Linked DNA regions of Homo sapiens: region 2 is reported to be linked to region 1. The links are microRNA targets in miRTarBase. Many come from high-throughput screens and were not tested one by one. Region 1 holds a microRNA gene; the other region holds the end of a gene's coding sequence.
Evidence for each region. Region 1 holds the annotated microRNA hsa-miR-3150a-3p (CUGGGGAGAUCCUCGAGGUUGG, at 2,795-2,816, shown strand). A microRNA usually pairs through its seed, bases 2 to 8, with sites in the 3' UTR of a target mRNA and lowers its output. Matches are read on the target gene's strand: a 7mer-m8 pairs with bases 2 to 8, a 7mer-A1 pairs with bases 2 to 7 and ends in A, and an 8mer does both.

Region 2: miRTarBase lists NAT10 as a target of hsa-miR-3150a-3p. The part of its 3' UTR that is shown has no 7-base or 8-base seed match.

Annotation. Positions count from the first base shown.
Region 1 is chr8:95,070,168-95,075,400 of GRCh38, forward strand. It overlaps MIR3150A (microRNA 3150a), which reads left to right and starts at 2,747; the gene lies at 2,747-2,826. MIR3150BHG (MIR3150B host gene) reads right to left here and starts at 3,015. Exons shown (of 2, transcript NR_132986.1): 1 at 2,762-3,015. MIR3150B (microRNA 3150b) reads right to left here and starts at 2,829; the gene lies at 2,744-2,829. LOC124901980 (a long non-coding RNA gene) reads right to left here and starts at 2,086. Exons shown (of 2, transcript XR_007061013.1): 1 at 1,579-2,086; 2 at 482-650. It also overlaps a transcript of NDUFAF6 not described here. RefSeq lists a silencer at 3,222-3,321.
Region 2 is chr11:34,145,305-34,150,304 of GRCh38, reverse strand. NAT10 (N-acetyltransferase 10) reads right to left here. Exons shown (of 29, transcript NM_024662.3): 29 at 3,397-4,221. The coding sequence ends at 4,113. Among named protein-coding and RNA genes, the nearest start is that of NAT10, 42 kb to the right of the region's middle. RefSeq lists enhancers at 1-385, 4,695-4,864.

The sequences.
Region 1 (5,233 bases):
GCTGGCTCCTCTACTGCCTACTGATTGACCACTAGCAAGTTATTACATTTAACCTCTCCGTGCCTTCATTTTCTCATCTGTAAAATGGCCTAGTGATAGTGCCTACTTCCTAGAATTATCATGAAGGTTAAGTTAGTTAATAATTGTAAAGTGCCGAAAATAGTGGCTGGCACTTACTAAGTGTACATATGTGTTTGCCATTTTAATCTATTTATATACATACTGTGTCACTTTCAGAGAAAACCAGGTCACTAGATTTTATCTTTTGGAATATTGCTAACATTAAGCTTTGAAATTTGATATTTTCCATCTTGGATGCTTTAAGATTTCAGGTTATCAAACAAATTTAAGAAAGTAAACACATTTTTACTTCTTCTAACTTCAGAGAATGAGCTTCTAAAAATGAGTGTTGAGTTTCTTTCCACTTTGGATTATGAAATTAAAAAGATATACATAAAACAAAACAAAAATCACATAAAAATCCATGAATTCAGAAGCTATATTTGAAATAAACAGGCTAGATGGCAGATAATATATACTAAAACCATTAACGTCACACATAAGGATTATAATATATCAACAACTTCAAGCTGGGCAGAGAATTTCTGGTATCACAGTTCACTTCTATGGGTCTTTGCTTTGCAATTCAACTGAAATTAAAAACAGAAAAACTCTCTATTGGTTTTGAAGCATATCTCCCATGATTTTTTTCCTATTCCCCTCCCCTCCCCGAGTCATCTGCCCTTTATTACTTGCCTTGGTCAGAGGGAGAATATAATTTTAGAAAAACACAAGCAGTAAAAAGCAATTTCTATACCAAGGAAATAATAATGGTGATAATCCAGATCACATAGAAATTAAATCTACTTTCCTAAACAGTAAAACCAGCTAGCTTTGCATGTGTTCATACCATATGATTAATATTAAAGCATAAGGCAACCGGCCGGGCGCGGTGGCTCAAGCCTGTAATCCCAGCACTTTGGGAGGCTGAGGTGGGCGGATCACGAGGTCAGGAAATCAAGACCATCCTGGCTAACACGGTGAAAACCCGTCTCTACTAAAAATACAAAAAAAAAAAAAATTAGCCGGGCATTGTGGCGGGCGCCTGTAGTCCCAGCTACTCGGGAGGCTGAGGCAGGAGAATGGCGTGAACCTGGGAGGTGGAGTTTGCAGTGAGCCGAGATCTCACCACTGCACTCCAGCCTGGGCGATAGAGCGAGACTCCGTCTCCAAAAGAAAAAAAAAAAAAAAAAAAAGCATAAGGCAGACACTACCAGCACTGCACCCTCATTAGCCAGCCAGCTTTGCAGACTCACCACCCCCACAGGCTGTCCTGGAGGTTCCTACGCCTGCAGTGGGAGCTAAGAGGTCAGCTGTTGCCCCAGAGCCGACCCCAGTAACCTTTGCAGCTTCCCTGAGGGCTTCAGGGACCTGCACCCTGTTTAGTGGGCACAGAGAAAATGGCTCATGTCCTGGAAATACCCAGCCTGGCTCCATTGGGCTGTAAGTAGTTCCTGGCAAAATTCCTCATTAGGTAACAATTTGGATGGTGGTGGAGATGTGTCCCTCCTACTTTACCCAAGAGGTGGTAGCGGTGTGGCCTGTGGGAATTTTGAGGGCAGCGGGCAAAAGTCATTCCAGTCCCAGGGCTCAGCTCCAGCAGCGCCCAGGGGCATCTCAGAAGCAGCTACATCATCATCTGTACCACCCCACGCCCTGTGCTTGTTTAGGGCTGAGATCCTATTGGGAGGCATTTGGGGAGGAGGTGAGCTGCGCTGGCAGAAGGTTCAGGGCCGGTCACTGGGGATTTTCCTGCCACTCACATCCCCTTCTTTCAAGTCTTCTTTAACTCTGCACAGATGGGAGTAACAGAAGATGCTGGTTTCCACCTCATCATTTTTTACCTTCTCACCCCCAGAAATTAATCTTCGCATAAACCTCAGGACCAGCACAATGCCTGTCTCAATAAAATGTTAGTTTCCTTTCCTTCTGTATCTCCTGCCTTCCCCTTCCTGGCCACCTAAGACACAGGGCCGTTATGTTGCGGTGCCCTACTTCGCAGCACCCCCAGACCTGCCCAGGGCTGCTCCCCATGCCAGAACCCTCCCTGTCCCCTAAGAACCTGACTATCCTTTGTTTCATTCCCTAAAAGCCTTACTTTTCAAGGCTGAGGCTGCAGCATCCTTTATACTGGTATACACTTTCATGTTTACAAGTGTCATTGGGCATCTACTGGTACTCATCTTAGTTACCCTTGTAACAGAGCCCTTAGATGTCAAACCAAAGCAGTGACTGACACTGAGATTTGTGGCTGCCTGGGTAGGTAGAGAAGAGAGAGAGAGTAGAGTTGACCATGTTTCTCAGCTCACAAGTTCCTATGATGGCTTGGAACCCTGACCAGCATTTTCTTCTGAAGCAACACCCTCGTGGTATGTTCAGCCTTTTTCTAGATCTCTCCAAGACAGAGAAATACTTGTTGCTCCTGCATTGAGGTTGGGCAGATGGGCATTACTGGGGCACTAGTGGCCAAGTTGCCCTGATCCACCCACCTGAGACCAGGTATGTGTGTGGTGGTGCAAGCCACTGCTTTTTCAGGCTGGTGCTGCTGGATGAGAAAGTCCCAAAGTTCTATCATTGAAGGAGCAGCACAAGAGTGAGGACAAATACCTTCACAGGCAGCAAGAAAGTGGTACACAGCAGGGAGGGCAGTGGGCACCTGGGGGAAGAGCAAGGCCCGAGGAGTGAGGGGAAGCAGGCCAACCTCGACGATCTCCTCAGCACCTGAACGCCAAGGCTGGGGAGATCCTCGAGGTTGGCCTGCTTTCCCTCCTTTTCTTACAACTTCTGGAGAAGCGTCAGCCCTCTGCAGGGAGGCGGCCAAGCTGGCAGGCGAGTCGGCGAGGGTGTCATTGCTTATATGGCTGCGGGGACCGAAGCTAGGAATAGACGCGCTGAGGGCTAGGAGGGCTCCGACCGGACGGAAGGATGCCGCATCGCGGGTCGCTGCCCGGAGCTGTGCGAGTTCGGTGCTCAGCCCCAACGGCGCTTTAGGCGGGTCCCCTAGGTTCTCGCCCTTGCGCGCGCAGCCAGGACAGTGTTTCTGCGCTTCCTGAGGCCAAAGCGGGTCTCCCCGTTTTTTCCTCTGGGGATGCCAAAAGCCACTGGAAAAGACAGGAAGCTGTCGCCCCGTCGCATTCTCAGCAAGATGAGGCCGAGTAGGCAGCGCCACCTCTCCCGAGCGCCCGCGCCCCGCTGCCCCAGCCGGGGAGGGACTGGAGGTGAAGTCGCAGGTGCGCTCCCCAGGGAATATCCGGGCTCGCAGACCACGCGGCACCGCCCCCGCCTCGCCCCGCTGCTCCTCCTCCCCCATTCCAGGTGTCTCCTTTTCCGCTTGCCCCTTAAACGTCCCCCTTCCGCAGGGGTCCTGCGAACCCCATCCACTGCCATGGCTCATTCTAACACCTTCACTGGGTGTCTTTTTGCATAACACTTAAAATAAAAATGGATCTGAATCTGATCCCGGCTTCCAGCTTACAGGACATGTCGAGGACAGAGGCACAAGTGAAAGTCCACCCAAGGAATGCAGTCAGCAAAGCCACGGTGTGGGGAGCTCTCTCCAGAGGGTAGGGGAGAAACCCAAAGAGTAAAAGAGACTTTAAAACCTGCCAACCAATCCCAACCTGATGTCCTAATTTGAATCCTGATTCAAATCAACTGCTTTTAATGGAAACTTAAAACTTTAGTGGAAATTTGAACCTGACTTGATATTTGATATAAGAAACCATAGTTAATTTTTTAAGGCATGATAATGGCATTGTGCTTATTTTTAAAGGATAGAGTCCTTATTTTTAGAAATTCAGACTGAAATATTTATGTCTGGAATTAGCTTCAAAATAACGCAGGGAGAAGTGGGTAAGGGTTGGGATGGAACAAGGTTGGCTATGATTTGATCGTTGTTGAGGCTGGGTAATGAAAACATGGGAGTTCGTTCTAGAATTATTTCTACTCTTGTATATTTTTAAAATTCTCTATAATAAGGTTTTAAAAAGAAGGAGAAAAAAAAATGGATATATTCCAGCTGATTAGTCTCAACGTTTTCAGGGCCACATACAAGTAGGGCCCTGAAAATATGTTAATTATGTGACTTAAGATCACCTGGGAGTCCTTTTCGTTACTGACTTGTGCGACTTGTGTGGCTCGTGTGCTCTCATGCTTAATTGGATTGGTCTTTAATCTGGGGCCAGGGAAGTGTTTGACCTGTGGCTGAGATTTCCACCTCTCTGCACTTCCCTTCCTGAACACCAACCAAAAGTGGCCCTGGGTTTCTAACCACCTGAAGATGACTTTCCATCTCCTCCAATGTCCTATGTCTAAAACTGTACAGCCTTATGCACTACCTCCTAACTTCCCCATTTCTATGAATAGCAGAGCATTTCCTCTGCCTCTGTCACAGACTAGAAGCCATCTAGCCATTTTGACTTCCCCCTCCTCTTTTCTCTGTCCCTCCACTTAGTCACCAAGTTCTGTGGATTCCTTGTTCACTGTTTCTCAGACTCATCTCTTCCTCTCCACTCTCACTGCTGTTGTCTAATCCCAGATGTGGATTTTCTCTGTTACATTTACTTCCTCACTGGTTTCCTGTCCTTAGATTCCTCCTTCCAGCGATCCCACCTGCCACTGCCCATTGGAGAGCCCTTAGATCAAGGGCCTCATGTTATGATTAGGCTTTGCAAACTCCAAATTCCTTCTTTTACAACCTCAAAAATTTCATTCAAAGAAAGCAGGAATGATTATCAGGCAGCCAGCAACCCCACCCCTCAAATAGAGTCTAACGTGAAAAACATTATTTCTCAATTGGTAAGCAAACACATCCCTCACTGATTGTTGGTAGGTCAACAACGGCCCAGACTTGGACAGCTGACAAGCAGAACCCAGGGTCACAAGGATCCCATTCATGTGGGTCAACAGACAAATGAAAGAGCTCAAATGACAGAACAGTCCAGAGATTCCTGCTGATTTTTCTAGCGTGCTCTAAAATGGAGCAATACACCAGGTTTCTAAACCATGGACACAAGACGTGACAAATGACTTTCAGATATGTGAATTCATTCATTCAGATGAAATTTACAAAAGCATACAATAATGTCATTTTTAGTTATACACTTAAAATCATCTTTATTAAGAAAAAAATACATTAAATAAAATTAGGACCATACAGGAAAATTCAGTCTGT
Region 2 (5,000 bases), not on the chromosome of region 1:
GGCTGAGGTGGGAGGATCACAGAGCCCAGGGGTTCGAGGCTGCAGTGAGCTATGATCACCCCTGCACCTCAGCCTGGACAACAAAGCAAGACTCTCTCTCAAAAAAAAAGTCGCCTGCCTGCCTGCCTGAAACAGGTATAGAAATTCCTAAGGTCACTGAGAACCTGAACCAAAGTGGCTGTGGGTCAGTGACCGGCCGTGACTCAGGCGTTAGGGGAACGACATAAAGATCCCAGTCCCTGGCAAAGCCCAATTCCAGCAGGAGCTGCGCAGGGCAGCTCGAGGCCCAGCCTGGGGACCTGTGGCCGCACAGACCCATGGTGCCCTCTGGGGGCCACTAGGAGGGGGCGCACTCCCCCACACCATCTTCCTGTGCAGTGGCCCAAGACGGTGGTGGAGCGGGCTGTCCGTCCCCAGCACTTGCCATTCAAAGTGGCTGCCCTTCATGGGTCTGTGTCCAGCGTCCCCACAAGTTCCCCCATCCCTGCAGGACATGCCTTGGTCCGTACCCAGCCTAGAAAGCAAGATCTAGTTGCATTCTGGCTCCAGATGAGGGATCCACCATTTCCTCTCTTGAGAGGGTGAGTGGGGGGTTGAGAGAAAGTGGAGGTAGGAAGGAGGGAGCGGGCCCCTTGGAGCCTGTGGGTAGCAGGAATACATTTTTGAATAAACATTTAAAATTAAAATAATTACCAAAAAAAAGCAGACATGCTTCCAAGGGGCTAGGACTCAAACAGAAATGATCACTTACCCAGGCAGCTGGACCTCCTAATTCCGGGCCACTGCTCACGGCCTGCCCTGCTCCGCCTGCTATGAGCAGCCACAGGCAGGCTTGGGGGAGTTACCCTCTTACTGGAGCCCTTGAGGACCCAGGTGCTGTGAGCATGGGTTGCATCTACAGGGATTTCACTCGGCTCCAGTGGGTCCACAGGCAAGCATAAGCTGGCGCCTTAGCCGTCTCCAAAGAAAACACCTCTCCAGAGGTGGCAGGTACCAGTCTGCTCCTGCACCGACAGGGCTAACACTGAGATTGTCCTTTTTGAGGCTGTCTGGTTTCTTTCCTGCATTCAAATCTTCTCCTGAAGCTTTCCTTTAGGCTCTCGGCCTGGAAGGCCAGTTATCCTTTTCCACATTAGTCCCCGTGCCAGATACCAGGTGGCTAGAGCTTTCTCAACGGAACCAGCCCAAGCAGGAAGCCCCGGCCTCTCCCTTTCAGGCTGCCTTTCAAGTCCGCTTTGCAGGATCCAGATGATGTTTAACTGGAACCAATTGTTTGTAGAATCAAGGGCATGCCCCCTCAGGGGCAATCCCCTGAAATTGTCTATTCCAGCCCAAGGGGCTTCCGACCCCACCCCCTCCTCCAGGCCTGCAGAATGGCTGCGGGTGTTGTAACAGGCCTCAGATAATGAGTCTACATTTTTCCAAGGTGACGGTCACTTATTTCTGCCCCTCCCCCACCTCCCAGCCTCAGCGGCCCCCTTTGTGTCCCGTCTCCTGGTCATCCGGAGTCCTCCGGGACTTCCGGGCCAGATGAGCAGTGGAAGCACTGAAGCAGGCCGGCATTAGCCCCGCCTGGCGAGGGGGTATGGGGGGTGACCATTTAGTAACCTTCTTTGTTCAGGCTTCTTCAGGCTCTTCCCCTTCTGGTGACAGCACTCATGGCTGGCCTATCTGAATTCATTTCGCAAGTGACATTTCCTAAGACAGCCAAGCTTTACAGATGTCACTCTGTCTGGGGGCCAGATGGTGAGGTGTGGGGGAGACATGCCTTTTCAGGTTTGAAGGAGAACCCAAGATCATGACCATAAAATGCAAAGACCCAAGCGTGTGTTTAGGAACACACACTTTGCAAATAAAGAGGCCTTGTCCAAGGATACAGAGATATTATACAGAGCCAGACAAGTCTGACTGCAAAATGCATGCTCTTCGCTGGCCAAGGGAGACTCCTTTTCTAGCTTAGGTTGTGGTTTTATAACATGGCCAGTCCTGGCCAAGTGTGGTGGCTCATGCCTCTAATCCCTATACTCTGGGAGGCCCAGGCGGATCACTTGAGGCCAGAGTTCCAGACCAACCTGGGCAACATATTGAGACTCCATCTGTACATAATTTTTAAAATTAGGCAGGTGTGGTGGTGAGCACCTTCCCAGCTGCTTGGAAGGCTGAGGTGGGAGAATGGCTTCAGCCCAAGAGTTCAAAGCTGCAATGAGCTATGATTGAGCCACCGCACTCCAGCTTGGGCAACAGAGCAAGACCCTGTCTGTTTTCAAAAGAACACCACAGCTAGTCCTTATTGAGTATTCTTAGAGCTGGCATGTAACTGAACTTGAGCGGCTCCTCTAGTTAGATCTGATGAGTGCCCAGAACCCAGAGGCACTTGCTATGTGCCAGGCACTGTTCTAAACGTTTCCCATTCTACCCCACCCACTTCTCACCACAGTCCCGTGACGGAGGTGCTATTCCTACCACTCAAATTTTGCAGAAATGGACCTGAAGGGCAGGTAGGATGAAGTAACCTGCCCAAGGCCACGGTGAGCGTCAGGGCAGAGCAGTCTACCTCCAGAGCCCTCACCTTGCACCCCAAAGCAGAGCCAGCCGGGGAGACTTTGAGGGTAGAGACACTAAACAAAAGCTTCCTTACCTGTAGGATGATATGCCTGGACAACTTGCACAGTCCCATCCAGCTCTGACCATTTGAGCATGTGACTCTGCTTCTGGCCACGGTCTAAGAAAACCCTCTTTGAAAGGCAGGTTCAGGCACCCACCTGAGAAAATAAATAAAAATTATTTTCATGCCCCCTCCCTGCCTCCAGCAAAATTTCCTACAGACCTAACAGAGGTCTGTGGCCAGGAAACTTCAGTCCCAAGAAACGAAAGACCCCTAGGCTCATGTCCTGACAGCCTCGGTGACAAGCCTCAGCAGCCCTAGGGTCGCATACAGAACCTGCTCTTCTCCCTGTGGGGACGAGTCCTAGGAGCTGTATATGAAATACCCTTAGGCTGAGAAGTTACCGTTTCCTTCCCTGTCCTTCTCTGAACCTAGACAACATATCGGGGCTGCAGACTCATTAGCCTGGATACCATTAAACAAACATACCAAAGTATGTGTAAAGCCACCAGGTTACCTCTGTTCCCAACAAATGGAAGGGACCAAGTGACCTGGAAGGAGCTGGGAAGGAAATGAGGCAGTTCTAGCTGGCTTCCAGCCACCACACCAAGCCCCTCGAGGTGACCATAGCCACCTGCCACTTCTCCCGCAGACTCCTGGGCTGGGAAGCCCTAGACACACTGCTCACCTTTGACCTTGATACCAACACCTTCCAAATTCCACCAGGCAGCCAAGACCCACCAGAAGAAACGTCCAGGTGCGTGGATTTCAGAACACTCACAGGCAGCTGATCTTTCTAGAATGTTATTTATTAAAAATAGATTCTCTATCCTTCCCCTCACCCCTGCGAGCAAAGTGGCCTTTCCCAACATCTTTTCCCAAATGGATGAAACAGGTCTTGAGGACGCAGATGTGGCATTCTACATAAACTACAGGATCAGGCTTTTCTGGGACAGTGGGTCTGCTGGAGCCAAGAGTGGAACAGCACAAGACAACATCAGCAAACCCTGGCGCACCTAACCGCGGGCTGCCATGGATGCCGGGACGGACTGGAGTTCCTCCTGCTCCAGGTACAAGTCCACAAAGAGAGACCCAGCGGCCCAGCAGCAGCCTCCTGGGCACCACCAGAAAGCGATGTACTTAAGGGCCTCAGGCGGTCGAGAGGCAACGTGGCTTCCACATGTGTGGGAATGAGACTAAAAAGCTGGCTCAAAGCAAAATATGAACTTATAGGAAAGGAGGGCCCTGGACTGGGCAGGAAGAGAGAGACTCGTGGCAATTCTAGAGATGGCAGTGCCCAGCCATCAAGTTCTAAAGAGACCCATTTGGGAGTGACTCTGCCTTTAGCCAGGTTGAGCTCACAGACACACAGGCCCAGAGGCCGAATTCGCGGCCAGCTTCCAGGTGTGCCGGGGCCTCTCGTTGCTTTTAACAGTCCAGCCAGAGAGGGTTCAGTTAGTGAGAGTATCTTCCCATGATCAAACACAGATGCCCGAGTTTCTCTTCACTATTTCTTCCGCTTCAGTTTCATATCTTTTTTGTTCTTTGTCTCTCTGTTCTTCAACTTCTTGCTCTGTTTGGGTTCTTGTTTGGCCTCTAACTTCCTTTTCTTGTCACTAGAGAAAAATCAAAAATAGAAAGAATGAAATATGTACAGATCTGAACATCTGAGACTGCTTTAAGCTTGCTTTGCTTTGTCAAAAAGGGTTTCCACCGTCTGAAACTTGATGTAGGCCACCCAATTGGACATTAATGTTCTCTGCAAACCTATTAGGGGGCAGGCATTGTGCTGGGGCTGGGGACACACCATACAGACCAGCTCCTGCCCTGAGCCAGCTCTTAGTCTGTGGAAGAACAAATCTCGATCTTAACACCTGAAATCCGGGTTCTCCTCAGGGTGCAGTACACTCTGCTCCCCTCTCCCAAGACAGACCTAAGGCACCACAAGGATTCCCCACCACCACTCTCACCACTGCAGTGACTCTGGAAACTAGACATATTCATCCCAATGACCCTGAAGACAGTCCTTAATACAAGGCATGAGACTCCAAGGAAAACCCTGCCATACTTTCTGATGTGCTACTATTATTTTATTTTTCCTATATGAGAAGAAGAAAACCCAAACAACAGTAACTCAGGTGACACCCTGCGACCAGCCCCTGGATTCTTCATTGATATCCTGGCATAGGAATCACTCAGCAAACGGCCACCTGCCATTAAGAAACTTACAGGTTAAATTTTGCTCTGGGAACAAATACTTCCCTATAAGGAGACCGTGAAGAGTTCAGTCCAGAGACCATTAACATCATATGAATGAAGTACCTCTCAAAGGAAGAAAAAGAAAGGCCTCAGAGGACTTAATGATAGCTACCAGTATTTTTAGCTCACAAAGTTC